Linked DNA regions of Homo sapiens. Changing the gene in region 6 together with the main gene of any one other region gives a genetic interaction. Each region holds a gene or a part of one and is shown on either strand. Other genes may lie near its edges.

Region 1 (5,028 bases), on a different chromosome or scaffold from region 6:
CCCTTCTCCTAACCTCCCTTAGTTGGTTTCCAAATTCCTTTACACCCACCAGGAGTCTTTCTCTCACCCACCTCTTCCAAACAACACACATACATATTTCAATCTTGTACTATCCCTGCCCTGGTTTGAGCCCTCAGTTTCCCCTCTACTAAGACTAACTTTAATGAAGTGGCCTAACTCAACAAATGTCAAACGCCTACTTAAACCAAGCAGTGTTGAAAACAGGCAGCAAAGAACCAAGTCAGAGTTGATTGCTGTAAGGTTGATAAACACTTAGATGAAATATGAAGCACTGCACAGGGGATAAGGAAAGGCTGCTTTATGCCGGGTGATCAGAGAAAACCTCCTCTCAGAGAAGAGGTGAGGATAGTTCCAGGCAGGGGGAGCAGTCACCACAAAGGCCAGAGGCAGGAAAGCTGGGGGCCTTGTGCCTGGAGTGAAATGAGGGGGAGAAGGGAGGTAGGAGGAGGAGGGCAGATCACCAGTCCTGGTAGGTGACATTTGAACTCTGGCTTTCCTCTGAAGAAGACAGGGATTCTGACTGGAGGATTCTGAGTAGAAAAGTAACCTCAAGTCATTTCAGTTTTTAAAGGATCCCTCCAGCTTCTTTCTGAGAGAAACTGGTAGGGGGCAAATGGGAAGCAGAGAACGCAGGGACTGCAATGACCTGCCCGGGGTCAGGCTCGCCTCATTCACGCTCAGGCCCATCTTCCTCAATGCAAGCCTGGCCATAACTTGTCAGCACCCACACCCTCTCTCTCTCTCCCCTGACCACAAGAACTTTCACTGGTTCCTCACTACCTCCATAACTATTAACTGCCACATCTCTGCATGATCCCCGAGATTGCATCATGGCCTATTACACCTTTCTAAGCACCATGCACTCCAAACCCAATGGATCACCTGCTGTTTCCCCAAAAGACCTCTATGAGCCTTTCTGTTGTGTCCTGTTTTCTCAGCCTACAATCCCTTGAGCACTTCTACCTTCCTTTCTCTGCCTCTGAAATGTTATTCACATCCTTCAAGACCAAGCCCAAAGGCCACTTCCTTAAGAAGCCTTTCTTGGCTGCCTCCAACACATAATTGGCTTACACCTCTACCAAGGCAATCTTACCAGTTCCTGGCTGTCTCCACCACACTGCCCACTGAAGGCAGCAATCACGCACAGCCAAGCACAGTGCTAGGCACACACCAAGTGCTCAATCAATGCGTGTTTGGTCGGAGAACAAACTGCTCACTTCACCAAACATCTTGAGGTCTTAATGGAGAAGTATTCCAGGGCAGGTTTTCCGTGTTGGCTACTGTAATCTGGAGACCAGGGGACCCTCTGATGGAGTCTCTGGGGACTGTCTGCTCAGCACTAACAAAGGTACAAGTAGGGACCACAGTGTGGACAGATTTGAACTTAGGCCTACGAAGACTCTTGCCTTCTCTGCTAGACATCTCTAAGCAGGCCCATATTTTGTTTTAAATTTCCATAAAGTATTGGAAGTATGTTTTTCCTAAGGTCATTCTAGAAGTGTACAAAAGAAGAAATGAGCACTTAGAAGGACCCACATCAAGTTAATGTAGTTATAGTGGTGAGAGAGGGTGGAATTAGTTTTATTTTCCTTTACTTTATCTTGAATACTTTTTCTAAATAAACATTTAATGAAAGTCATTTAGAAAGAATGCCAAGTACTACCCAAGTTACATTTGCAGAATGAGTCCAAAAATGAAAAGTACCAAACAAATAAGGAGACATGAGGCCATGGAATTATGTAATACCGCTTACACGGTAAGATTACAAGAGCTGAAAATGTTTTAAGTGGCTTGTCTGAAGCAAGCAATTAAAATAATTGGTCCTGTGCTTTCACCTCTGAAATAATTATTTCACTAAACATAAAGCAGATGTTGTGAGCATCTTGGGCACTTATTGATGACTCTTACCCAAACTAAACTCTTCCACAAGCTCCATAATTGACCATAAACCAGTTCTCATCACTGCATCCTAGCTCATGTTACACAGGTGGCCAAACAACTCTGAATGGGACATTTCAATGACTGTCTTTAGAGAGGAAATGTCAAAAACAGGCAACTAACAAATAATACATCTTAAAGCTAAAGCTATATCAACAAAGTATTAAATAAAGATTTGTCTTCTAATTTTCAATAAAAGACCTACAGAACTTTTAATGAAATAGCTCATTTAAACACAAAAGATCTAGTTGCTTTAGTTATCACCCTGTTAAAGAAATAAAAAGGGGAAGAGGAAACTGCAGTCAGGCACAGTGCTAGGTATTCTAGGTGTAGCTTTATATTACTTTCCCCAGTAAATCTAACATAGGGCTTTATCTTCCCCATTTTACAAGTGAGAAAATTTATCCTGAAATAGTTCGTGTAATTTTAACTTTAGGCATTCCCATACGTAACTGAGACTCAGATTAAATAACTTGTCCGTAGTCACACAATAAGTGGTAAAAATAGAATTCAAGCCTATTTCACAAAAGACTACATGCCACACTGTATGACTGATTCCACTTACATGAAGTTCAACAGGTAAAACCCATCTATGATGACAGAAGTCACATCTATGATGATGTAAGAAAGAATAACAGTTCCTTCAGGGTGAGGGGGTGGGAACACGGACAAGACATGGGCGCAGGAACCTTCTGCAGTACTGAAAATGTTTATTTCTTAATCTGAGAGCTTACATACATGAGCTCATGCTTAATATTAACACTTCTCACACTTTACTGCATGTTATACATGAAGTTAAAAAAATCCTCATCTTATGGACTCCAAGTTTATGCTCTTAACCACTAAACCACCACATGGCACTCGGACAGAATCTAGCCACATGCCAGAATTGATTACCTTGGATTATCATTTTTTTCAAACATTCTGGTAAGCTACGTACATCCTACTCATATCAGAATGAAGACACCTGAACCCTCTGTTTTAAAATGCCACAGAATGAAAAGTAGAAAGTATCAATTTCCTGGCTACTGGGAATTTCCCCCTCTGTAGCCACATCAGAAAATGGTTTTTGTTTTTTTTAAGTTATAGATGCACAGAAAATAATGTGTAACATTCTTAAAGTTATATATGAAAATACCTAAAGCTAAAATTGCACAAGATACATGTTATGACTCTCAAAAGACATCTGAATTTTTGTTACAAAAATTAAGACAAGGCAAAAAGACAAAGCTGGTGGGCAGAGGTTGTTAATACTCACAGGGCAACACACAGAGGGCAAAAATCTCAACTCTTAAAATTTGTAACAAATAGAAAACTCAGTACAAATAACTTTTTCCAGCAGCAAAGTAATTGTGCCACATAAGCCCTAATAATAAATTCTCCATCAAGTAACAGGTTCCAGCCTGGCAAAGTCTCCTTACCAGTGAGTGATGATGAAATCATTACATCAATTCTCCCAAAACCTTACCCCACACATACATACACCTCTTATTCAAACAGTAATTGCCTCTCCAGAGAGAGGAATGTATTCATTCTGTAATTTGCAGACATATTTGGCAAGTACGTAGGAACAGCAATCCCACCTTAGAGAGTGGAGAAAAAGACAGCTGGGTCCACACCTTTTGGGTGTTTGTGCTGTTTTCTTTACTGGATGCAGCCAGGAAACATTTACCACTTCAGAGTCTAGTTTAATTCATGTTTTAACCTTCTGTACACACCAAAAATACCAAGCAACCAAATGACTTTAGTTTCCCCTGGGCACTTACATAAGAGACCAAAAGGCCTTTATGAGAATCTTTCAGTATTGGTGATGTATGTACCACCATCAGGGATGTTGCAATAGATTACACATCACCAAGTATTATCCTAGTTGCAAGATCTCAAGGTCTCAATGTTTATAAAAGTAACCATAGGCAGTTATTAATTTTTAAAGTCTCTAACAGACTTTCCAATAAAACCATCAAAAAAATACAGAAAAATACAGTCAAATACTACATCCATTAACCAAGTCAGAAAGAATGAAAAGCACTGACCCAGTATGTCAAGAGTATTAACAGCTGTGGATCAGCATCCCTAAATTAGGATTTTCATGAAACCCTAGCATTGCTAGAAAACATTTAAAGCTAAGGCCAGGCGCGGTGGCTTACGTCTGTAATCCCAGCACTTTGGGAGGCCTAGGCGGGTGGATCACCAGGTCAGGAGTTCGAGACCAGCCTGGCCAACACAGTGAAACCCTGTCTCTACTAAAGACACAAAAATTAGCCAGGCGTGGTGGTGGATGCCTGTAATCCCAGCTACTGGGGAGGCTGAGGCAGGAGAATCACTTGAATCCAAGAGGCAGCGGTTGCAGTGAGCTGAGATTGCACCACTGCACTCCAGCCTGGGCGGGAGAGTGAGACTCCATTTCAAAAAAAAAAGAAAAAAACATTTAAAGCTAAGTTTCAAAGTTTGAGAAACAGAAGATTCACCTTTTCTTTTATCCCTGCATCAGCTGAAAAAGCCCTGCATATTTCTCTTCAGAACATACCAACGATGCCTCACTAATGCAACTATTTTTTTTAAAAAAAACCACATATCTGAACAGTATAGTCAAAATCAACTATGAATTATCAGTTCTACTTTCCTATTTTTAGCACAACTTTAGTTTATCAGAAACCTAAAACATGACTTTTCTTTAAAACAAGAAAATTTTCAAAACTACAAACCTTCATATATTCAGCCCTTCACCAGAAGCCCAGAAAAAAATTCATAATTTTTGAACAACAAGCAAATCATGCTTATTTTCCTCAAAATACTACTTAGGTTTTAAGAACCTTCTGATGTGCATCTGCCAAATGTGGCTGATTTCAGTCTCAGACAGGGAAATCTAAAAGGCTACCACAGGGTTACTGTTTTTGGTAAGGGGAAGTCGATGCCAGGAGGAACTTCTCTATTGATTACAGCAATGACCACCATTTATTAAGCACTTCTTAGCTCTCCTGGTGCAGTGCTAGGAGTTTGGCAAACATCCTATTTGTCCTCAGAAATAATCTTGCAGAGCAAACACCACCATCCCCAAAACCAGATGTG
Region 2 (5,028 bases), on a different chromosome or scaffold from region 6:
CTGGGAGACATCAAGACCCTGTCCCTTTAAGGGGGAAAAATAATTGAAAAAATCAAAAACTTAGTTTCTTGTTTCACAAGCTGCATAGGGCTAATGGCTACCATATTGGCTAGCACAGCTTATAGAACCTTTCCATTGTCACAGGAAGTTCTGTTTGGCAGTGCCGTTCTCATTAGACCTGATTCGATTAAGGTCCATCTTTGTTGACAGAGTACTTCTTAGGTGGTGCTTTGTGGTTCATATGATGATAGCCTGGTCTGTTCATTCATATATCTTTTCACGAGAAATATTTTTATTCCATTCTGAATAAAATTTCATGGCAGGTACTTGCAAGAAGCAGTTATAATTTTAAAAGTTTAACATTAGGTTAAAAAATTGACAGGAAACATATATTCACAGGAAAACTTGTACACAAATGTTCATGGCAGCATTATTCATAATAGCCAAGAAGTGGAAACAACCCAAATCAATTTATGAATGGATAAAATGTTGTATATTTGTAGTACATGTAATATTATTCAGCCAATAAAATGGGCCAGGCATGGTGGCTCACACCTGTAATCCCAGCACTTTGAGAGGCTCAGGCAGGGGGATCACTAGAGGTCAGGAGTTTGAGACCAGCCTGACCATCATCACGAAACCCTGTCTCTACTAAACGTACAAAAATTAGGCAGGCGTGGTGATGCACGCCTGTAGTCCCTACTACTCAGGTGGCTGAGTCATGAGGATTGCTTGGACCCCGGGAGACAGAGGTTGCAGTGAGCTGAGATCATGACACTGCACTCCAGCATGGGCAACAGAGCAACATCCTGCCTCAAAAAAAAAAAAAAAAAGAAGTACTGTTACATGGTACAACATGGATGAACCTTGAAAACATTCTGCTAAATGAAGGAAGACAGACACAGAGGGCCACATATTTTATGATTCCATTTATACGAAATGTCCAAAATTGGCAAATCTAAAGAGAAAGTAGATTAGTGGTTGCCAGGGAGTGAAGACGGGTTCTTTCTGGAGTGAAGAAAATGTCCTGGAATTCGTGGTTGTAGTTTGCAACCTTGTGAATGTATAAGGACCACTGAATTGTCCACTTCAAAAGGGTGACTTTTATGTTATGTGCATTATATCTAAAAAAAAAAATCATAATTAGGAAGCAAGATTGACTTCTAAGAAAAAGCGGAGTGAAATTGTTGTTTTGTGGTGAATAAATTGGGTGGGTGGGTCGCAAGAGTTTTGCTGATTAGTGATTAGAAAAATTATTCATAATCATTGAAAATATAAAATATTTTTCTATATGATGTATGTAAAGAATTTGGCAAGAGATGATGTTTGGAAAAAATAAAGAATGGCTATTGTAGAGATCTTAAGGAAAGAAACTACAGTTAAGTAGTGCTTTGTAATCAGAATATGAAGTAAGTACTGAAAGTGGATGGAGTGGCTGTTGTCAGCATGTTATACTTTATACATTTCATTCATAAATTTGGACTGTAGATAAAAGTAAACTTTTTTTTTATTTACTCTTGAACAACAGTTTTTTTTTTTCCACTTAGACTTGCATCTGCTCCACTGAACAATACATTTAATTGTTAATTATTTCCCCCTTCAGGATGATACATATACAGAAAGCTACATCAGCACAATTGGTGTGGATTTCAAAATAAGAACTATAGAGTTAGACGGGAAAACAATCAAGCTTCAAATAGTAAGTGACTTGGCTAGTAATTTTTTTGAAATTTATTTTGGTAAATTTGTAATGTATTGTTATTTTGTATATATTTACTATGCTAACAAAATTGAATGTAAAATGTCTTAAGATTCATGTACTTAAGATAGAATGGTAGAATAAGAATTACTTAGATTAAAAATAATATTTTCAAGATTACTTAAGCCTCATTGAATTTTCTATTCATGAAGCAGAGAAACTCATGTTTTAAGTCAAACTTGGTCCTCATCTTTTTCTTTTATCAGTGGAAATCTAAGTTCAAGTTTACCTTGTCCTACACTGCAAATGTTATAGACCATTTTTGTTTGTCTTTTACTGTGCTAAGTGCATGGAACATTAAAGGAACCCTAGGAAGAGATTCTTCATATGTGGCTCAGTTGAAGAGAAGTACTTATGTAGTTCTAAGTATTTTTATTAGATAGTGTGCACCAACTCTGTAGAAACACAGAATTTTGTTGGAAAAAGGAACTTAGTTTTTGTAACATGTTCATTTTACTGCTCAAAAAAACGAATGCTGAAAGATTTAATGACTTGCCTACAGTTACTGGTAGAACCAAGTGACCGAAGCTCTGTCTTCAATATTTTGTGTCTCTGTGCCATCCTATCCCCCTTATCCATCTTTACACCCCCAGCCCCCAATTAAATATAGGCAATTATAATAGTTCAGTTGTGCCTCTTCAGTATGGGTCTGAGTCCTGTCAGTGTGGGCATATCTGTGGTCTTTTAAAAAATAAATCTCTCAGTATTTTTCAGAGTAGGCTATTAGCAAGAAGTAGGCTATAAACACAGGAAACCAGTGACTGCCCCTTTTCATGGAACTGATGACACATGGAATTGGAAGGAGTCCTGCATTAGGAGTCAGAAGACTTAGATTTGTTGTCTTGGTTCTAGTATTTACCTGTTAGAGAATCATGGGTTTGTGTCTCTGGGGAAAAGGCCGAAGTAACCCTGAGACCCAGTTTCCTTTCTAAAATGTGTGTGATGACACCTGATTTACTAATTTATAAGCTAGTTGTGAGAACCAACTGTAATAGCTTTGTGTATGTGACAATACGTGTGAAAGCCCTTTGTAAACTTTTGGGCAGCATATAGATACTACTTATGATATGACATGCCCAGATAAATGGGTGTTTGATAGGTTAAGTTGCTCCCTTTTCTTACATGACTCTGATGAGGAAAAGAAGGTATGTTAACAAAAGATAGGTGGCTGTGGATATTGATATAAGTAAACACACTTGATGTGTCAAATTAGGACTTGCAAGGATTTAGTTTTCAGAAATAGCTTGAAATACTTTCAATCAGTGAACAAATTACCCTCCATATTTTTTCCCACGATATAAGTACAGTCTCAACCTTTTATTTGGCACCATAAAGAGCACATAAAGATCTACCCAAAACTGTACTTTAAAGCACTGGTATGGAATAATTGTATTATGTGTGATCATTGGTGTTTATAAGATTTGGGTGTGTATTCGTGTGTGAAACATTCATATTTTGTTACTTTCCTGTGGCTGGAAGGGATCTTATAGGACACTGTCTTTCATCTTTGTCTGTCTTTCATCTTTAATAGGAATTTCTTTTCCATGCCTGAAGGCCTCATTTTGAACATTTTGTTTGTTTGTTTTTTTATTTTTTGAGATACAGTATTGCTCTGTCTCCCAGGCTGGAGTGCAGTGGCGCGATTTGAGCTCACTGCAACCTCCGCCTCCTGGGTTCAAGTGATTCTCCTGCCTTAGCCTCCCTAATAGCTGGGATTATATGTGTGTACCACCATGCCCGGACAATTTTTTTTTTTTTGAGATGGAGCCTTGCTTTGTCGCCCAGGCTGGAGTGCAGTGGTGCAATCTTGGCTCGCTGCAGCCTCCGCCTCCCAGGTTCAAGCAGTTCTCTTGCCTCAGCCTCCTGAGTAGCTGGGATTACAGGCGTGCGCCACCACACCCTGCTAATTTTTTGTATTTTTAGTAGAGACAGAGTTTCACCATGTTGGTTAGGCTGGTCTCGAACTCCTGACCTCGTGATCTGCCTGACTCGGCTTCCCAAAGTGCTGGGATTACAGGCATGAGCCACTGTGCCCAGCCTTCCGATAATTTTTGTATTTTTCGTAGAGATGGGATTTCGCCATGTTGGCCAGGCTGGTCTCAAACTCCTTACCTCAAGTGATCCACCCGTCTTGGCCTCCCAAAGTGCTGGGATTACAGGCGTGAGCCACCACGCCTGGGTTTTTGAACATTTTTAAGAAGCTTACCATTTTTTCGAAATAGCTAGTTCCATTTTACACATAACTTCAGCTAGGCATGTTGCCTCATGCCTGTAATCCCAGCACTTTGGGAGGCCGAGGTCAGAGAGTCACTTGAGGCCAGGAGTCAACATAGCTCCTGTGACCAGCCTGGTCAACATAGAGACTCTATCTCTACCAAAAAAAAAAAAAAAAAAGTAACCAGGTGTGGTGGTCCATGCCTGTAGTCCTAGCTCCCCAGGAGACTGAGGTGGGAGGAATGTTTGAGCCCAGGACTTCAAGGCTGCAGTGAGGCAAGATTGCACCATTGCACCCCAGCTTTGGGGACAGAGTGAGAGACCCTGTCTCAAAAACAAAATAAGGCTGGGCGCAGTGGCTGTCCGGGCGTCGTGGTTCACGCTTATAGTCCTAGCACTTTGGGAGGCCAAGGTGGGCAGATTGCCTGAGCTCAGGAGGTCTAAGACCAGCCTGAGCAACATGGCGAAACCTCATCTTTGCAAAACATACAGAAAAAAACAAAAAAAACCACAAAACCTCTAGTTGCCAGTTATTTTTTTTATTTATTCCTAGTGATTCTTCTTTTTTTCTTTTTTCTGAGACAAAAATTTCACTTTGTCTCCCTCGCTAGAGTGCAGCGGTCAGCTCACTACATGATTCTTTTAGAGACATGTTAATTCTTTATATTGAGCTGAAGCCTGTTTCTTTTACTTCTGTCTCTTCTTATTCCTCCGCCTTGTAGAGCTGCCTGAATCAGATTAATTCCTCTTTTATTGGCAAGCCTGCCCTTCAGATTGATCTTATCACAACCTTTCTTCTACCTCTGAAGTCCTCATTCTTTCCTGTAATGATATTTTCAGAACCTTGTGCAATTTGGGTTATTCTTACATTTTATAAATGCCTTTTATTAAATTTGATTTCTTAAATCAAGTATGAGATATAACACATGAGGTAAATCCTGTCTTGATTTGGAGCCTGAATGAATTTCTCTCTTGAACTTCAAGGGCTCATGGCCCTTTCTTATTATTAATCAAAGACAACCATTTGTTGTTTCAGTAGCTATATTATTTCTAGT
Region 3 (5,028 bases), on a different chromosome or scaffold from region 6:
TGGCATAGTCTTATCTGTGTTTTCAAGTTAGCTAGAGAATAAAATCCAAACTTCTTAGCTTTTGGACAGATCATAAACAATACTGTTTGCCTTGTAATCTTTCATGTTTCCTCTTCTTTCTCATTTACAGTAACTCTAGCCCACTGAACATCATATTTCATTGAGTGTAAGACACATATTTCTCCCATTTTAACTTTTCTACATACAACATGTCTTATAATCCAAGCCTTCTTGCAATCGCTGTCAGTCAAGTGTCAGTCATTACCGTGACATAGTTTTCATCATCAGTGCATGTGCCAACATTAATAACAATGGCATCCAGAGTTTCAGAATGAATGGCATGGTTTGAAAAAAATCCTGGGAACAGTAGTGAAGCTCCTTTCAAGCCTAAGAAACAAATACGTGTGTGTGTGTGTGTGTGTGTGTGTGTGTGTGTGTATGTGTGTGTGTGTTGAGAAGGGTGGAGAGTACGTAAGGAACAGTGTTGAATCAGATTTGTTTAGCAACATTCTGGAACTGTTACTCAAAACAGTCTACCTCTATGTAATTGCAAACTCAGTTTAATTGTCTAGCACCAAAAGCTTTTGGTCTATTATGGATTCTTTAGATTGTTTTAAAGAAATCCTTCATCACCAATGTCCTTTTGGCACAGAGCACAATCCTGTGGAAAAATATGGGCACTGAAGCTTCTGAGTTGAAAAGTGATTCTGAAGACTCCATCCCCAAATGTGAAGGAACTTAGGAATACCATAACAAATTTGTTTATTTTTTAATTATGTGCATAAGAGTTATATATGATCCAAATCTATATCTAATTGAGTATAAAGAACTGTTTTAAGAGGTATAAAATAAAAATCTAAGATATAATTTAACTGATAACACTTCTTTTTGCTTATTTCTTAAAGATACATAAAATGTCAGAGCAGGTTACAATTGATAGAAGCTTAGACTTCATGCTATATGGTATTCATTGGTTACCCTAAAATGGTGCCTAACATACCAAAGGAACTTAAACAAATGTTTGTTGAAATAAATTAAGAATCTTTCCAGATGGAATACAGTGTCTGGCCCTGAATGCCCCTCCAAGAAAAGGGTTCCTGCAGAAATCCCTCCCCTAGGTTAAGTGTGGGGATTTTCTTACTGCCCAGGATCAGCTTTTTATAGCTGCTTCTGCCACCCTTCAATCTACTCTATACAAAATTCTGTTTCAAGAAGGCTAACTCAGTAATAACAAAAATGATTTTTATCTGTAACAGTTTAGCTCCCTAAAAGAATTTTTAAGTTACCTTTAGAAATTGCCATTTCTAATTCTTATTTTGACTCCTAACTCTCAAGATAATTTTATTAGCGATTCCCATGAAAAGAACTCTTCCTAGTTTTTTTGTTTTTTCTTTTTTTTGTGAAGGTTTTGTGCTACTACAAGTCAGGACAAAATGCTTTTTGTATCACAAACCAAAGCTGGTGCAATGGAAACATGAACTCTGCTTTGAATAGGCAGTCAATCTTAACATGACTATCCACACTGTAATTGATTCCTGGCAACTTATATTTTTAGACGAATACCATGTAAATGCTTTAAAAATTATGCAAATCTTGTGGTTAAATCCCCAGTTTCACACTGTCATGTGAGTCAATGTCTCTAAAACAACCTGCATTATAGCATAGAAGCAGTTTTATCCACATGATGGCAATGAAAAGTAAAAGAAAGCCTTGCCTTTTGCAATCTTTAGTCATGATCAGTTTGTGGATCTTTGGTAACATTAGCAATCGACACAATTTTGTTAACATTCATAGTCTTCCTTTGGTGACAAAGACTGGCAATTTTTCAAAACCTAGTTTCACTCTTTATTGAAATAAGAGATAAAACAAAATCCTTTGCTCTTCCCTTTCTTTCTTCCCATTTGTGCCAACTGCTAGCTGTGTAGCATTTGGCAAGTCACCTACCTTCTTTTTACTGTCATTCTTTTTTCTTATCAGTAAAGTGAGGATTATAAAAATGCATATCTCATAGGTTTGTGATACGGATTAAATGAGTTAATACCTACAAAGCACTTGGAGAAGGGCCTAGCACACAGAAGTCGCTAATAAATCTAGCTATTATTTCTATTCTTGCTGGACATAATCATATAAAATCAACAGAGATGAATGAATAAATAGATTAATGAATTAATGAAAGAAGTGAGATATAAAGCTTGACCTCCAAAGATGGCTAAGATTTCAACAGAAAGAGAAAGTGGGGGTTAAACATACTTATTACTGCTATTTATGCCCTTTTCTTCCAGTCTTCTATCCGTACCCAGGATATAACTTAGATATAATGAGCACAGCACAAGGAATGTTGGTTCAGTAGATCAGAGCCAACGTGTGGCTTTCCAAATTCCTATGAAAAGGGAGAAGAGAAGGAATGGGGGTGAGTGCGCTTTTGAAGAGCATAATCCACCTGTATCCAGCTGTGCCTGGCTGAATACTGAGAGAATAGAGGACTGAGATATGGGATACTGAGAGAATCTGCCAGCCCCATGGTCCACGTGTTCCAGCCCCAAATATATTGGGTTTTGCCCACTTGACAACAACCTACTGGCTGTGTAACTTACTGCACATTGTTTAACATTTCTAAATTTCAGCATTGTTCTTTATAAAACGGATGCTAAAAATAGCTGAGTAGATGCTCTGAAGATCAAATTACATTTGTATGACAACTAGAAAAGAACCTGCTACAGAATAGGTATTCAAAAAATGTTAGTTGCCCCAAATATATATAAATATTTTGGATTAGTCCTCCACAGAAACAGCAACTTACATTAAACTGTATGTAATTCTAGTTAACATCATTTCTCCTCTTTGTCATGGCTGAGAGCTGAATTAGGTGGAGAACAGTTATGCTGCAATCATATAGGTTGTTTGAGTATGTGTAACACTCATTTCTGTATTCTGCTCTAAACAGAGATTCTATAAGAACTGTGATTCAGTCAGTTCCAATGGCTTAAAGCCTCTTGAGCAGCATACCAAATTTTAGATGCCAAAGTTTAATTGAAACTTGGCATATGGATGAACACTTCTGCATGTATTGAAAGCCATCAGAAGATTCCTAAACAAAGAGCAATCACACACATGGTAATTTTATCCAACTGGAACCAATTATATTTGGCATTTTTTATGAAAGAGGGAGAAAAATAAGAATGGACTCAAGAAAATGTTTTCCTTTTATGACTTTTACCCTCTTTAAGATGAATTGCCTTATGAAGTTACTTCTTACAACTCAAGGAGCATAAACTGTCTAGAGAAAAAAAATTATGCAATGTCTTCCTGGAGGCAAACATTTTGTTACAGAATAAATGTGGACTTTTAAGCACATCTGGCAATCATTCCACAACCTACAATGCTGGCACCCTAAAAATGCTTCACGATAATAATATGTTACCAGTAGAGTTGATTACTTCAAGCCAGGGGAGGTTTCAACACAAAACAGGTCATTTCCATGCAGAATACAGAGCTTCAAAGTCATCAGCTATGAGACCCACCATTAATCCAAGTGGTTGGGGGAGACGATTACTCCTAATAGAAGGGGAGCCAGATTTGAAGGTGGTTTTTACACGTGCTTTTCCCCTGGAAGAGCAAGCTTCCACACTGCAATCTTTCACCAAAGTCTAGGTCTTGGCTTTATGGTTATAGATGCCATTTCAAAGGGTATACTAGATTATAGGATTCTTTCTGCGTTCTAGACCACTACATATGTATAAGAAATCATTGTGTCGCACATGTTCTCTTTTATTGATTTCACTTACCATTCAATAAATATGTCTTGTTAAGAAAATCAGCCCTTTAATTTTATTTGGAAATACCTCGTACTGCTGCTGGACTGTCATGTTCTGATGTGACTGCCCCTTTGGGGTCAGAGAGTAAAGCCACACTTCTGTAGGTCAGTGGTGGTATCTTTGCTTAAAGGAGTAGACATATCTAATGTCAATCATCTAGGAAAGAAGGAGAATTTTAAAAAGAAATAAAGTTTGGAAAATAGATATTACACCAAAGAAAAAGGTTGTGGCGGGAGGTGGGGAGGCAGTCATTCTTCAGTCTGGGCTAGGACAAAGGACTAGATTGATTGAGGACGGTCTGCAGAGGGAAAACAAGAACGCTCGCTGCCAGATAGATAATGCTTGGGGCCAGGCAAGGGTCAATCCCCAGGAGACTCCATAAATGAGCTGGAAGAGCAGTTATAGCCAGCCAGGAGTTTTTCCCTTTTTATTAATTCTCTTTGGTAAAGATATAGCCTCGCCTCAGGTGTGCAGAGGGAACTTTAACGGAAGAGCCTCAGGCTAGAGAGCTAAAAGAAGAGTAGTATGCTGGTGGCAGTAGTGATTGGTGAAAGATTCCCTGAAAGATGAGTCTTTGTGACAGGCAGCTGGAATACAAGATATAGGTATCTCTTTTGATATGGACATTCACTCTTCTGCCCAACTTAGCTGATCCAGATGCTATTTCATTAAAGTAGCTGGCATCATTTTATTCCTTATTTGAATAAATATCAAGGAGGAGGAAATCTCTTTGTTGAGGAATAGATTAAATGGTACCTTCTCTCTGCTAGGCACTGTGTTAAGATAGGGGGATGAAGGACAGACCCACTTCTTGTGGCTTACATTCTAGTCAGAGGAAAAGGACGTGTGAACAAATAAATGTAAAAATGTGTAACAGATGTTTCAATGAACATAGTTGCCAAAAACAAGGGAGAGATAACAAGGATATAATAATTTAATATGATGCATAGGCCTGAGTCCATGTTCTTCAATCTTAAACTTCTTTAAGAGACTAGTTATCCTATTGGCAAGTAATATCAGGAAAGATTCTCTAGCCTACAGTCTGAATTTTTCATTCCCTTATTATCAATGTGTTCAATACTAACTTTTTTTGCCTGGAGAAAAGAAAACAATATGTGGGGGATTTTACTTGTGGTCTCTAACATTACATTACCTTTCTTAAACTGGGAATTCAAACTCTGGATCTTATTTTCATAAATGGGGTTCAGGTCAC
Region 4 (5,028 bases), on a different chromosome or scaffold from region 6:
CAGTGTTAAGGGTGGCTCACAGACCACATATGGGACAATTTAAGCATCAAAATAAGTACATAAATTAAGAATCCCTGAGTTCATAATGATATAAAGAGAGAGAAATAAATAAGTAAATAAAGGGGGTGGAAAGAAGGGCTCTTCCTTAGAATGCCAACTTCTAAATATAGAGAAATGATAGAGCTGGAAAAAAATCCCCATTCACCAGGTAAAAATCAATTCAGCCAGGAATCGCCACACAGGTGACAGCTGGATGAGGATTAAGAGGTTTACGTAGTCTTGAAATGTCTCCTCACAGATTACTTAGTGATTACAAAAGGAAAAACACTAACGATACGGTGGAGAAACCAGCCAGCACCTTCACAGGAGGATCCTATCGAATGTCACCAAGACACTGGGGCACGTGATAGTGCGCACCTCCCGCCAGGATCCTGATGGGGACACGGGGCATCTGGCTGGACCTGCCCAACCTGAACCTACTCACAGGGAGCATCGAAGGCCGCCTGGGTCCTGGGCTCAGCTGGGTACCGGAAAAACACCACAAAGGACATATCTGAGACAACCAACAGAAATGGGGTGAAAGTATTACATCAGAATGAATGCCCTCATTTGACAGGTGCTTATGTTCTTGGGAAATAGCCACTAGAATATTAAGGGGAAAGGGAATGGTGCAGAAGCACAAACATCTGTGGAGACAGGAAGGGACAGCACCACGTGGCCAGCGTGGAAAGCAGGCTGCCTGGCTTTCTTTGAGCATCCCGCACATGTTCTCTAAGTCTGGCTAGGACGCCTCAGAAGCAAGCTCTCTCACTCACCTTCTCCCCCAAAGTTCTCCTGGAATGAGAACTCTTCTTCCCCAAGGCAGGCCAGAGAAAACTCAAACCCCTCTTGCCCAAAGCCAGCCATAAAGCCTGGAGATACTACTCGATGCTTCCCATGCCCTTTTGTGTAGGATCTGGATATTAAGAAGTTCTCTGAACTACCTTGCTGATAGTTAAGTCATAAGACTCTTGTTCCAGAGGTGTCCTGCCCTACACCTGGGAGGAAAGAACATTGCCCAGTGAGGCCAAGAAGAATCTGAACAGACAGGCCTTACTGGTTTCCCCGCTACTCTACTACTGTTAGATGGTACCCTTCTGTCCAGTCACATTGATAAGAGTTTGGGGGTCTGTCCCCTCTAAATCTCACGGTGAACTGTGATCTGCAGTGCTGGAGGTGGGGCCTGGTGGGAGGTGTTTGGGTCATGGGGGTGGATCCCTCATGAATGGCCTGGCGCCCTCCCTGTGGTAATGAGTTACCACGAGATCTGATTGTTAAGGAGTCTGGGACCTTCCCCCACCACCTGTTGCGCCCTCTCTCTCGCCTACTCCCCCTTTGCCTTCAACCTTGAGTAAAAGCTTCCTGGGACCTCATCAGAAGTTGCACAGACACAGGTGCCATGCTTGTATAGCCTGCAGAACCATGAGCCAATGAAAACTCTTTTCTTTACAAATTACCCAGCCCCAGGTATTCCTTTACAGCAATGCAAAACAGACTAACACACCTATTTCTACATGGCTGCCCATTCTTTATCAAACCTAAGCATAACAATGGACAGTCTTCCCTGGGTCTTTGGTCTTCATTTCTGAAGCCTGATGTGTTAAATAAAACTTTGATTAAATAAATTTGTTAAGGTTTTCTCCTCCTAATTTGTCTTTTGTTAAAGGAGCATTGGCCATGACCCTCATGATGGATAAGAAAAGGAATCACACTGTCCTACCACTGTAGCTGTGTGTCTTTCTTCCCTTCTCAGCTGACGAAATCATCATTCATCTTTACTTGATATCAGGCTTAAGGGACGCCTTTTCCAGGAAGTCTTCCATGATTGCAGGCTGGTCTCAGCCCTTTCCCTTCGCCTGGTATTAAATGAATGGTGCATGTATTGTATCTCCTGCTGATGTTAACTTCATTGAGCACAGAATTCTACCTCCGGCGTGCAAACCCTCCACTGAAGGGTTTAGTGTAGCTAAAGTAGTGGCTGACAAAGAAGGCCCTAAATAATGCCATTCCCAAGACTTCAGCACTGTCTACAATGGAAAGAAAGAACAACCAGACAAGAACCGCAGCTTAATAAGCCATAACTTCCAAAACAAGTGCCTGTGCTCATGGGCCCCCTGCAGGTCAGCAGGTGGACACAGGCTGCACTGGGAGGAGCCACAGAAGGTGACAAAAGTGGTCACTTTCTCAAGCACATTTCCAAAGACCATAAGAGCACTTTGATTTTGGACTGAGTGGGCTATTTTTAAAAACTCCCCATTCAACAATTCTTGAAGGCAACATATCTGTGCCTGGTAAGGGCATGACAGCGGGAGCGGACAGCATGCTTTCTGCACACTTACTTCTGGGGTTAAGTGCACTTCCATGGGCGTGTATGTTGGCCAGTAGCCCATTGTGAGTATGTTCACTGTGAGGTCTATAGGGCCTGAGTCACTCTGATTCTGCATATGCTAAAACAGAGAAATCCAAGACAATCATTTTGAGAAAGTAATAAAACATAATTAACCTAAAACAAAATAAACCGTGTAATTTTCAATATAAAGTTTCATCTGTGTTAGAATTTATCTCAGTCCCCAGAATGTATTCCATGAAACCCAATGCCTCACTAGGACTGCCTTTTTCCCTTCTTCAGGTGTCACCACCAGACTCACTGAAATAAAATTCTTGCCACACGTTTAGATCTTCTTTTTCTTCTTTTAAAATTTACTTGTGAAACGTTAATAGTGTAATTTTCTTCTTACATAGAGTGAGATTCATTCTATCTAATCTATTGAATCTACCTACCTTATCTATTTATCTATCTATGACAAGGTACTGCTATCTCTGTCTATGTATTATCTATCTATCCACCCATCCACGACAAGGTCTCACTCTGTTGCCCAGGCTGGAGCGCAGTGGTGCAGTCACGGCTCACTGCAGCCTCAAACTCCTGGGCTCAAGTGATCTTCTCACTTCAGCCCTACCCCAGTAGCTAGGACTACCTGTTCATTAAAAAAATTTTTCTTTTGTAGAGACTGGGTCTTGCTATGTTGATCAGGGTAGTTTTGAACTTCTGGCCTCAAGAACGTCTCTTGCCTCTGCCTCCCAAAGTGCTGGGATTACAGGCATGAGCCACCACACTAACAGATACTTTTTAAAAAGCCGCTTTACCTAAGAAACACAACTCACCTGCTTGAAATGAACCATGATGTCCTTCGAAAGCTCCATGTCCTTGAACATGCCTTCCAGCTTGCTGGTGAAGGCTGCACCGCACTCTGGACACAGCAAAGGAGGGAGTGAGATCGGGGTAACACACGGGGCAGCAACCCTCAGTTACAGGGGAGGAGCCCAGGCCCCACATACTTACCATGCTTGAGCTTTGACAACATAGACTTTTCAGCATCGACTGAGGCACTTTTCCCAACAAGGAGTCTTTTTGCCAAATCTTTTTTATAAAATGCTTCAAAGACATCTTTACCTATTTATAACCAGACGAGAATAATCAAGACATCAGAGAGTTGATAAGCAAATGTTAAACTTCAAACTTCAACTGCTGAAAACCCTTAAAAGTGTTTTTTTTTTTTTTTGAGACAGAGTCTTGCTCTGTTGCCCAGGCTGGAGTGCAGTGGCGCGATCTCGGCTCACTGCAAGCTCCGCCTCCCGCGTTCACGCCATTCTCTGCCTCAGCCTCCCAAGTAGGTGGGACTACAGGCGCCTGCCACCACGCCTGGCTAATGTTTTGTATTTTTAGTAGAGACGGGGTTTCACCATGTTAGCAAGGATGAAAAGTGTTCATTCTAATGCAAACTGGCTCTACTGATACTGACATTCTCATGCTAAACCTCCTCTGGGAAAGCAGGGCCTGTTTACACCTCTTGATTATGCAGCATTTTCTGAGTGCCCGAGTCTCACCGTGGATAAACCTGAACAGGATCATGATCTTGTCCAACGTCCGCTCCAGCTCCTCGTCTGTGGCTTCTTTGTTGCCTGCTCTTAACTTTGAATCCACATGCTTTGCTGTGAGCATAAACATATAGTAAATACTCTAAACTAGAAAAAGAGAGCATCTTCAATTTCTATTAGCAACATTGTACAGGAACATTCTGGAACCTTCCCAAAATGACTATATGACAAAAAAACAAATATCTGATTTTCTAAGGTAAGTACTTCTCAAGTCAAGTGAGAGTAAATACTTGCCAAAATTTTAATGAAGCCAGGACTGAATGTTTAAAGCAGGTTTAAATATCTTTCTTATCTTTAAATGCAATCTCTGAATTTCAAAATAAAATGACTTCAGCAAATACATGCTCAGGTTTCAGGACGTGACTGCCCCGGACGCTGGAGTGCCTATTTCTAGGATCTGGTGTCATGAATGCAGAGGAGACATTCTCAAAGAGAAAGACTTTCTCAGAGCATCCAAGGTGGCAACGCAGGGTGAAAGCATTTCTACTCGGGCTTCCTGTTTCTGAGGCTGCACAAGCCATCGTCAGGTGGCTTGGGAGGGAGGACCAAAGTCCCCATGTGATGGGAGAACCCAAGACTTCCAGAAGCCCAAACTCCCAAGAGCTCAACATCCCTTTGCTTTAGAGAAACCACAAATGATACAGAGGAACAAAAGCCAAAGTAAACTGCCTCCTGAATTCCTTCTGTTGCTGTTTTTGTTAGTTTTTTTCTTTTAAACATTTTGTAATGGAATATTCTGAACACACAGAAAAGCAGACAATTGCACAATGAGCTCCATGTTCCATCTTACATCTTCAGCAGTAATCAACAGTCAATCTAGTATCGTCGTATTTCAGCTCTCTTTGCCCCCTTTCTCCTTCGAATTAAAAAAAAAATTTTACTGACTAGAGAAAGCCTATGAATTCTGAAATATATTTTGATATTATTGTGAAAAAATTGTACAGCTTAAAAATAGTATTATCATTTGAGATCTCATCTGGTTTTATCCTATTTTAATATGGATTAGAGGATACAAAGATGGTGATCACCCCTCCCTTCTTTGGCGAAGTC
Region 5 (4,377 bases), on a different chromosome or scaffold from region 6:
TGGAACAGCGGAGCTGCCTGGACCAGGCCCTCCAACCCGGCCCCCACACACCGCCCGAGGACCTGCTACACACCGGGCACGGGGAGGGAGCTGCCCTGGGGAAGCCCTGCCCACCCCAGGTGCCACACAAGGCCTTACTGCCCTGTTGCCAAGACAGGCCTGGCCAGGCAGCCACGGTCCACCCAGGGCCTCCACGTGGGCGCCATGGCCAGGATTTCGTTCTTTTTGACATCATGACTCAGGCACCTTGGAAGCCAAGGTAAAAGGGGCGGCGGCCGGAAGGCCCCGCAGACACACTCACCATCTTGGCACTGAAGCGGCCGTGGGCAAGCTCCCCCACAAAGGTGAGCTTACTGGGCTCGGAGTGCCGCAGCAGGTGCGTTCTGACACCCTCGATGGCTTCCACGTAGTCTTCCAGCAGCCTGTGGACACCAGCAGTCATCTCACTCTACCAGGACGGTGCATCGGCTCCCGTGGGGCACCAGGGACAGGCACATCCTGGGCCCACACAAGTACAGCAGGCCTGGCCCTTGCCGGACAGAAGGTGCCACCCTGCACAGCCCATGGCCCTCAGTGAAGATGCCCCCCTCACCCCCCCAGAGGCCACGGTGAGAGGTGAATGAATACGCCCTCCACATAAATGCCTGGGCCAGGCCTGGCACGGCTGCGGTTTCCTGACACACAGTGTGGCGGGGGGCAGCAGGAGCGGGGGCCGTGGGAGCTGGGGGCAGCAGGAGTGGGGGGCTGCGGGAACGGGGGAGCCGCGGGAGCTGGGGGCAGCGGGCCGGGCCTCACTGTGTCTCCTGCTTCCCGCCCTGGATCCACTGCTTCAGCAGGTACTCATAGTAGCTGTCGGCCCTGGCGCCCAGCGTGAATACGCCCAGGTGGGTGAAGAGGCCACTGTGGGTATTGATGAACATGGGCACCAGCCCATCCTTCTTCCCAGACAGGCCGTGGATGTGCTGTGTCACCTTCTCCACTGCCTCCTGCGGCAGAAAGGGGGATGGTGGGTTTACTGGCCAGGGCCGAGCTGCAGGGTGAGCTGTAGAGGGGCTCTGTGAGCTCTGCCTCCCCTCGCCCCAGCACCGACTGACTCCCAGCAGAGAGAGCTCTGTGCCCAGCCCACAGCTGTCCTTGCCCACATGGCTCCTGGTGGCCGTACCACACAGCCACACAGCCACCAGTGCAACGCACCTGAATGTCACTGCTCCCAACGGGTGGTCACCACAGAGCTGACCCATCTTCAGGATGGCTCTCATCCCTTACTCGAAGGGACAGCATCTGACAACCACAGGCACTGTCCTCACGAGAGCCCACCAGGCCTGGCCGTCAGCCATGGCTCTGGAGGGACGGCAAGTGTGCCTGCCTTCTGAGCCCAGTGTTGCTCCTGATGATATTAAACGCCTCGGCTCCACGCCCTCCTGGTGAGCTCCTACTCATCCTCCAAGTCACAGCCACCCTCAGCTCCTCAGGGCTTACGCCCAGCTGGCAGCACCAGGCGTCCTGGCCCACAGAGGGGCACAGGGTACCGGGATGTTAGGGCACGCCCAGCAAGGGCGCTCCGGGTCTCTACCCAACGCAGACACCCAAACCCATGCCCAGCACCTTCGAGGCCTGGCTGCCTATCCCTGTGTACCGGCAGCAACCAGAGGCCCTGGTGACATGGGGGTGCCCATGGGGGCCTGGGGCCATTTTCTGAGCTGCAGTGAAAACGCCTTCTAAATGTCTGCATGGGAGCCTCACGTGGATGGCGTGTGGGAGCCTCACGTGGATGGTGTGGGCTGCACTTCTCACCACAAGTGGTCACAGTTGCTCTAAAGAGGGCTGTGTCCAGCTCATGATTAAAAACAGGGACTCGAACATGAGGCCAAATACATGAGCAACAATAAACTGACCAGCTGTGCTTCATGAAAATGACAATCTGTTATCTATCAAAATACACCATTAACAAAGTAAAAAGAGGCCGGGCACAGTGGCTCACACCTGTAATCCCAGCACTTTGGGAGGCCAGTGGGTGGATCACCTGAGGTCAGTTCCAGACCATCCTGGCCAACATGGCAAAACCCCATCTCTACTAAAAATACAAAAAAATAACGGGGTGTGGTGGTGGGTGTGGTCCCAGCTACTCGGGAGGCTGAGGCAGGAGAATCGCTTGAACCCGGGAGGTGGAGGTTGCAGTGAGCCGAGATCGCGCCACAGCCTCAGGCAGGTGTGTGCACCCACACTCACAACACCCAAAACACAGCCTCAGGCAGGTGTGTGCACCCACACTCACAACACCCAAAACACAGCCTCAGGCAGGTGTGTGCACCCGCACTCACAACAAAGCAGAGCCTCAGGCAGGTGTGTGCACCCACACTCACAACGGCCAAAACACAGCCTCAGGCAGGCGTGTGCACCCGCGCTTACAGCAACCAAAACAGCACAGTCCTGGTGTCCACCAGAGGAGAGAGGATTAAACAAAAAGTGGCCTAGCCACGCAGCAGATATTCAGCCTGAAAAAGGAATCTCTGAAGCATCTTTCGCGTATGAAGCTTAAAGACGCTGAGTGAAAGGAGCCCAAATAAAAGGATAAATCAGCCGGGTGTGGTAGCTCACGCCTGTCATCCCAGCACTGTGGGAGGCCCAGGCGGGTGGATCACGAGGTCAGGAGTTTGAGACCAGTCTGGCCAACTTGGTGAAACCCTGTCTCTAATAAAAACACAAAAATTAGCTGGGCGTGGTGGCAGGCGCCTGTAATCCCAGCTACTTGGGAGGCTGAGGCAGGAGAATCACTTGAACCTGGGAGTGGAGGTTGCAGTGAGCTGAGATCACGCCACTGCACTCCAGCCTGAGTGACAGAATGAGACTCTGTCTCAACAAACGAAAACAAAAAAAGGACAAATCGTGTGTGACTGCACTCACACGAGGAACTCCACACAATGAGGTCCAGGAAGAAAAACCTGAACAGTGTTTTTCAGGGACTGGGGAGGGACATGAAGGGTCACTGTGTGATGGGAGAGCTTCAGTTTTAAGATGAAAAGGGCTCTGGAGATGGAAGTGATAGCTGCACAACAGCATGAATGTGTGTAACACCACTGACCTGTACTCCTGCAACAGCGTGAATGTAACACCACCGACCTGCATGCCTGCAACAGCATGAATGTGCAACACCACCGACCTGCACGCCTGCAACAGCATGAATGTGTAACACTACCGACCTGCATGCCTGCAACAGCATGAATGTGTGTAACACCACTGACCTGCACGCCTGCAAGTGTGAATGTGTGTAACACCACCGACCTGCAAGCCTGCAACAGTGTGAATGTGTGTAACACCAACCTGCACACCTGCAACAGTGTGAATGTAACACCACCGACCTGCACGCCTGCAACAGCATGTGTGTAACACCACGGACCTGCACGCCTGCAACAGTGTGAATGTGTGTAACACCACCGACCTGCACGCCTGCAAGTGTGAATGTGTGTAACACCGACCTGCACGCCTGCAACAGCATGAATGTGTGTAACACCACCGACCCGCACGCCTGCAAGTGTGAATGTGTGTAACACCAACCTGCACGCCTGCAACAGCGTGAATGTAACACCACCGGCCTGCACGCCTGCAATAGCGTGAATGTGTGTACCACTGACCTGCACGCCTGCAACAGCGTTGTGTGTAACACCACCGACCTGCATGCCTGCACCAGCGTGAATGTAACACCACCGACCTGCACGCCTGCAACAGCATGAATGTAACACCACTGACCTGCACGTCTGCAACAGCGTGAAAATGTGTAACACCACCGACCTGCACGCCTGCAACAGCATGAATGTACCACCGACCTGCACGCCTGCAACAGCATGTGTGTAACACCGACCTGCACGCCTGCAACACCATGAATGTGTGTAACACCACCGACCTGCACGCCTGCAACAGTGTGAATGTGTGTACCACCGACCTGCACGCCTGCAACAGTGTGAATGTAACACCACCGACCTGCACGCCTGCAACAGCATGTGTGTAACACCACCGACCTGCACGCCTGCAAGTGTGAATGTGTGTAACACCAACCTGCACGCCTGCAACAGTGTGAATGTAACACCACCGACCTGCACGCCTGCAACAGTATGAATGTAAGACCACCGACCTGCACGCCTGCAAAAGCGTGAATGTGTGTAACACCACCGACCTGCATGCCTGCAACAGCGTGAATGTGTGTAACACCACTGACCTGCACGCCTGCAACAGCATGAATGTAACACCACCGACCTGCACGCCTGCAACAGTGTGAATGTGTGTAACACCACCGACCTGCACGCCTGCAACAGCATGAATGTGTGTAACACCACCGACCTGCACGCCTGCAAGTGTGAATGTAACACCACCGACCTGCAC
Region 6 (5,028 bases):
CTTAAGGTTCATCTGACTCAGTTAAAAGTGAATACATTTTGAAGCAAATAATTTGTATATAACCAATTCTCAAAGGTGTGTGGTCAACAGTGCCACTTCTGGTAAAACAAGAAATACTCATCAATAAATACTAAATTAGGCTGGGCACAGTGGCTCATGCTTGTAATCCCAGGACTTTGGGAAGCTGAGGCAGGAGGATCGCTTGAGCCTAGGAGTTCTGGACCAATCTGGATAACACAGGGAGACACTGTCTCTACAAAAAAAAAAATAATAATAAAATGAAATAAAAAAAAAAAATAAAATAAAATAAAAATTAGCGGGGTGTGGTGGCACACACCTGTGGTCCTAGCTACTTGGGAGGCTGAAGTGGGAAGATCACTGGGGTCTGGGAGGTTGAGGCTGCAGCAAGCCATGATTGCACCACTGCATTCCAGCCTGGGTGATAGAACGAGGAGACCCTGTCTCAAACAAACAAACAAACAAACAGAAAAACTAAATTATTGCTACTTTTACATATATTTTGTTTATATGATATTTCATAATTTTAAATAGCATGTTCTTCAAGACCTAAGGTTTTTTAATAGAACTAGAAGTACTATGAAAAACAATTTTTTAGAAGGAAGTTTAACAGTGTAACAATATATGTTTTATATATGATGCATGTTTACTTTCAGTCATTCATATCCTCAGAGGACTCTTGTAAACTTCAAGGAAGTTTTGACTATATCTGGAATACAAAGGGAAAAATGGAAAAACAAATATATTTTAGAAAATAATCTAGTTAACAGACATATCCTGAGTCTCTACCTAATGTATAATCAGCAATAAATTAAGTCTTTGGATTTTCTGCAAGTTCTCCCAAGTCTTTCAAGTTATACTGCTATTTGTGAGGGGTTTTTTTTTCCCTAGAAATATCTGTAAATTCTATGTTTAATTAGTTTCTTTACTGCTTTATATATATTTCTGCTAACAGATAATTTGATCTTGTTAAAGGACTTTTTTCACAGCCTTAAAATAGGTTTGTTATATGTGATCTCAAGGACAGTATAATAGACAATTTTCTCATTGTATAGATGTAAAACTTATTTTTCTTTAGATAGTTTATTGGAAAAAATAGCATCTGAGCCCTGGATTTTTTTAAAGCCAGCCTAACATTTACTTGTCTCAGGACTATAATCATTACATTAATTTTCTAATTCATAGCATGTGGATAAATGTGATGTGGAATTTTCCAGTGTTCCTTTCTTTTAAGTTTAATGATCGAGCATTTGAGTGTCTCAGTGAGAGGGAATTAAACATTTAACTATTTATTTTCATTTAAAAAATCTTTTTCTACTAGATCACAAGATTTCTGTTGTGAAGGATGTGGCTCTGCCATGAAGGATGTCCTGTTGCCTTTAAAATCTGGAAGCGATTCAAGCCAAGCTGACCAAGAAGCCAAAGAACTGGCTAGGCAAATAAGCTTTAAGGTACTATAAATTCTTAAATAAATGCTAATCTTGCAACCCTTTTGTTTACTGCTGGATTCTGCATAGAAAGGAAAGCGATGCAGTTCTATTACAATATGACATTTGCCAATGTTTTTCTTTTTTCATATTTTTATATTTTTAATTTCTGTGGTTACATAGTAGGTGTATATATGTATAGGGTACATGAAATGTTTTAATACTGGCATGGAATGTTTTTCTTATTACAAAATTCCTAACTACATTCATGAAAGCTTTATAGAATAGTGAGGGAGTGAAACTTGAACTCTGGTATACAATGCCAGGGTTCAAATCCCAGCTCTGTTGCTTATTAGTAGTATGATGTCAGACATATTAATTAACCACTTTGTGCCTTTTTATTATCTATAAATAATAATGGTACCTAAATCATAGGATTGCTGTGAGGATTGAATTAATATATGTAATACATGTGTTGCATTCAGAACTGTCCCTGGTGCTTAATAAATTCTAGCTATTATTACAGAATATATAGATAAGCAACAAGAAGAAAATGATGGCCGGGCGCGGTGGCTCACGCCTGTAATCCCAGCACTTTGGGAGGCCAAGGCGGGCGGATCACCTGAAGTCAGGAGTTCGAGACCAGCCTCAACATGGAGAAACCCCGTCTCTACTAAAAATACAAAATTAGCCAAGCATGGTGGTACATGCCTGTAATCCCAGCTACTCGGGAGGCTGAGGCAGGAGAATTGCTTGAACCTGGGAGGCAGAGGTTGCGGTGAGCCGAGATCGCGCCATTGCACTCCAGCCTGGGCAACAAGAGCGAAACTCCATCTCAAAAAAAAAAAAAAGAAAAAAGAAAAAGAAAATGACATTCATAATCTCACCGCCAAGAAATAGCTACTGTTAATATTTTGGCATCCCTCCTATATATCCCTTTTTTCTGTATATGTTTTACCCGAACATAGGATTATATAATATTTTAATACTTTGAGTATTAAATATTTAATTATTGAAGGTATTAGCTGGGCGCAGTGGCTCACGCCTGTAATCCCAGCACTTTGGGAGGCCGAGACAGGCAGATCACGAGGTCAGGAGATTGAGACCATCCAGGCTAACACGGTGAAACCCTGTCTCTACTAAAAATACAAAAAATTAGCTCGGCATGGTGGTGTGTGCCTGTAATCCCAGCTACTTGGGAGGCTGAGTCAGGAGAATCGCTTGAACCTGGAAGGTGGAGGTTGCAGTGAGCCAAGATTGTGCCTCTGCACTCCAGCCTGGGTGACAGAGTGAGACTCCATCTCAAAAAAATATAAATAAATAAATACATACATACATACAGACGTAAAGTATTAAGTATTTAATCCTTCTGGAATTTAATTAGCTTCACAAACAGAAATGTCAACCTGCATTAAGCAGCATGCTCTCTTCCTCTTCCCTCTCCACTTCTCTATGGACTGTCTGTCTTTCCAGGTCCAGTTCCCTTCTCTTTTATTGTAGTGCCTGGAGGAGGAGTTGCTCAGAACATGTTTACTTTCTTCCTTCTGAGGATTCCTATTACACTTAAAATTGCTTCTGAAAAATCTCAGGACCAAATGTGTTTTGTACATGAGAATTTTTCAGACTTAAGAAAAGATCTTACATATACCATATATTAACTAACCTGCCGTGCGATCTGGGGCAGCACCTCATAATCAAATCCATTAGGATTTCTTCAGCAAATCTGGGAATATTACATTAATGTGGGATTAATGTTTACACTAATGTGGGATAAAGACTATTCATAGGTTCACATCAGCTCATATCAGGCTTTGCCTAAAAATTACCAAAAAAACCTTGAGTTTTGAGAGCTTTTTAGCATTGTGGATTGTGAACCATGGGTGTTAGTTTTGTCCCTCATCAAGTAACGGCTTCTTGAGAACAGGTGTTGTGTATGCTTCTTCCTATGATACCTAGTACAGTGTTGGACACAAGAGTGCTCAGTGATTAACTGCCTGATAATAGATATTAAACTAGCAATTAAAATAAATCCAACAGAGAGGATTTAGCAGGTTGTAGATTGTGTATGTTTCCTGTTGTTTCCTGTTGTCACACTGCTCTTGGGTCTATCTTGTTTATAGGCAGAAGTCAATTCATCTGGAAAGACTATCTCTGAGTCAGACTTAAACCACTCTTTTTCACTAACTGATTTACAAGATGATATACCTACAACATTCCAGGGTGCTACGGCCAGTACATCGGTATGGCTCTTATCTTTTAATATATATGTATGTCTCTATCATTATCACTGTTTGCAATAGGAGGAGAAGATCCTGGATCAAATATCTGAAAAATTTGGTTCTCTTAACAACTGGATTCTAACTCATCAGTCCCGCTAATGAATTATTATGTTGAGCAAGTTGTTCATGCTTTCTGGCCTCAGTTTTCTTTTTTTGTTAAATGGGGCTGGATTAAATAATTTTTGTCTTGTCCCTCCAGAATTCTGTGATTCTCTGAAAAGTTAATTTTAATATAGTGTTAGACTGAATAAAACAAAATATCCATATGTTAGCCACTTTCTAAATAGACACTATTTTTGGCAGGATTGTTCAGCTGCATTAAGGTACTGACTTAATAAAGTCGTAGAGCCAAAAATTTACTTAGACTTGCTCTGTCCAACACAGTAGCCACCAGCCACATGCAGGTGTCTACATTTAAATTTAATCAAAATCAAGTAGAATTTAAAATTCAGTTCCTCAGTCACACCACATTTCAAGTGCTCCATAGCCACATGTGGCTAATGGGTACCATATTGGACAGTGTAGACATAAACATTACTATCATCACAAAATTCTGTTGGACAATGCTACCTCGTATATACTAAGTGTCCAATAAATAATTGTTGAATAAAAGAATGAATGCTATGAGTGTTGTTAGTGGTGCCCTGACCTGTTGTCTAAGAAATTGTTTGGCCTAGGTGATCAGAGAGAGTGATTTAAAAAATATGACTGGATTGGTGCCAAAAAATAAGGATTATGGGAAAAAAATGATTTTCCTTCCTATATATAAAAGATTAACTGTCTTTGGAAGTCTTTTTGGTAACAGATTGTTTGGTTAAGTAGTCACATTTTTTTTGTTGTTGTTTCTCCAGTTTATTGAAGACTTTAAAGGGTGAGGGAAAATTGAAATAGAAGTTGGGCAAATATAGATTTGCCCTTTACCCAGCAATAACGTACGTAAAGTGGGAGTGAATAGTCTTGAGTGAGTCTCTCCTATTCAGAGAGTGAGCTGGGCAGAGAAAAGTTGGTTGAAGAAGAACAGGGTGGTAGTCTAGGGGGACTGAAGATGGAGGTCCAAGAAAAAAGTGTGTAGCGATGAGTTTAAATCATTTTTGTGTGATCCCAATGTAATTTTATGAATTGCAGGGGAAAACAATGAATTAATTTTAAGGTCAATATGTTTTAGTTCAAGATATTGAAAAAGCTTTCTAATTACTTTTTATTTCATAGTTTTTTTTCTAATAGAAGCATTCTATTACAAAAAGGAAGGTGGTAATCTTTTTTCACCTTTTAGGACAGCCTCCTAATGTTTGTGATGTATTTAA

The links.
Region 1: changes in UBE2J1 (region 6) and B3GNT2 together harm fitness more than expected from each alone (negative genetic interaction), as found in Homo sapiens cells (one large-scale study listed by BioGRID).
Region 2: changes in UBE2J1 (region 6) and RAB1A together harm fitness more than expected from each alone (negative genetic interaction), as found in Homo sapiens cells (one large-scale study listed by BioGRID).
Region 3: changes in UBE2J1 (region 6) and TRPC6 together harm fitness less than expected from each alone (positive genetic interaction), as found in Homo sapiens cells (one large-scale study listed by BioGRID).
Region 4: changes in UBE2J1 (region 6) and CUL4A together harm fitness more than expected from each alone (negative genetic interaction), as found in Homo sapiens cells (one large-scale study listed by BioGRID).
Region 5: changes in UBE2J1 (region 6) and MAN1B1 together harm fitness less than expected from each alone (positive genetic interaction), as found in Homo sapiens cells (one large-scale study listed by BioGRID).

Annotation. Positions count from the first base shown.
Region 1 is NC_000002.12:62,198,297-62,203,324, reverse strand, and holds part of B3GNT2 (N-acetyllactosaminide beta-1,3-N-acetylglucosaminyltransferase 2), read right to left. Parts: intron 1-5,028. UniProt on the Homo sapiens protein: Beta-1,3-N-acetylglucosaminyltransferase involved in the synthesis of poly-N-acetyllactosamine. Catalyzes the initiation and elongation of poly-N-acetyllactosamine chains. Shows a marked preference for Gal(beta1-4)Glc(NAc)-based acceptors.
Region 2 is NC_000002.12:65,094,642-65,099,669, reverse strand, and holds part of RAB1A (ras-related protein Rab-1A), read left to right. Parts: intron 1-1,603; coding exon 1,604-1,699; intron 1,700-5,028. UniProt on the Homo sapiens protein: The small GTPases Rab are key regulators of intracellular membrane trafficking, from the formation of transport vesicles to their fusion with membranes.
Region 3 is NC_000011.10:101,573,520-101,578,547, forward strand, and holds part of TRPC6 (short transient receptor potential channel 6), read right to left. Parts: intron 1-5,028. UniProt on the Homo sapiens protein: Forms a receptor-activated non-selective calcium permeant cation channel. Probably is operated by a phosphatidylinositol second messenger system activated by receptor tyrosine kinases or G-protein coupled receptors.
Region 4 is NC_000013.11:113,243,414-113,248,441, reverse strand, and holds part of CUL4A (cullin-4A), read right to left. Parts: intron 4,033-5,028; coding exon 3,928-4,032; intron 3,494-3,927; coding exon 3,383-3,493; intron 3,291-3,382; coding exon 3,205-3,290; intron 2,487-3,204; coding exon 2,379-2,486; intron 1-2,378. UniProt on the Homo sapiens protein: Core component of multiple cullin-RING-based E3 ubiquitin-protein ligase complexes which mediate the ubiquitination of target proteins. As a scaffold protein may contribute to catalysis through positioning of the substrate and the ubiquitin-conjugating enzyme.
Region 5 is NC_000009.12:137,102,734-137,107,110, reverse strand, and holds part of MAN1B1 (endoplasmic reticulum mannosyl-oligosaccharide 1,2-alpha-mannosidase), read right to left. Parts: coding exon of another isoform or gene 2,746-4,377; exon of another isoform or gene 2,135-2,745; intron 987-2,134; coding exon 796-986; intron 423-795; coding exon 302-422; intron 1-301. Other genes in the region: uncharacterized protein LOC124902313, read right to left, coding at 2,901-4,335, 4,372-4,377. UniProt on the Homo sapiens protein: Involved in glycoprotein quality control targeting of misfolded glycoproteins for degradation.
Region 6 is NC_000006.12:89,331,743-89,336,770, reverse strand, and holds part of UBE2J1 (ubiquitin-conjugating enzyme E2 J1), read left to right. Parts: intron 1-1,339; coding exon 1,340-1,469; intron 1,470-3,565; coding exon 3,566-3,685; intron 3,686-5,028. UniProt on the Homo sapiens protein: Catalyzes the covalent attachment of ubiquitin to other proteins. Functions in the selective degradation of misfolded membrane proteins from the endoplasmic reticulum (ERAD) and is essential for cells to recover from ER stress.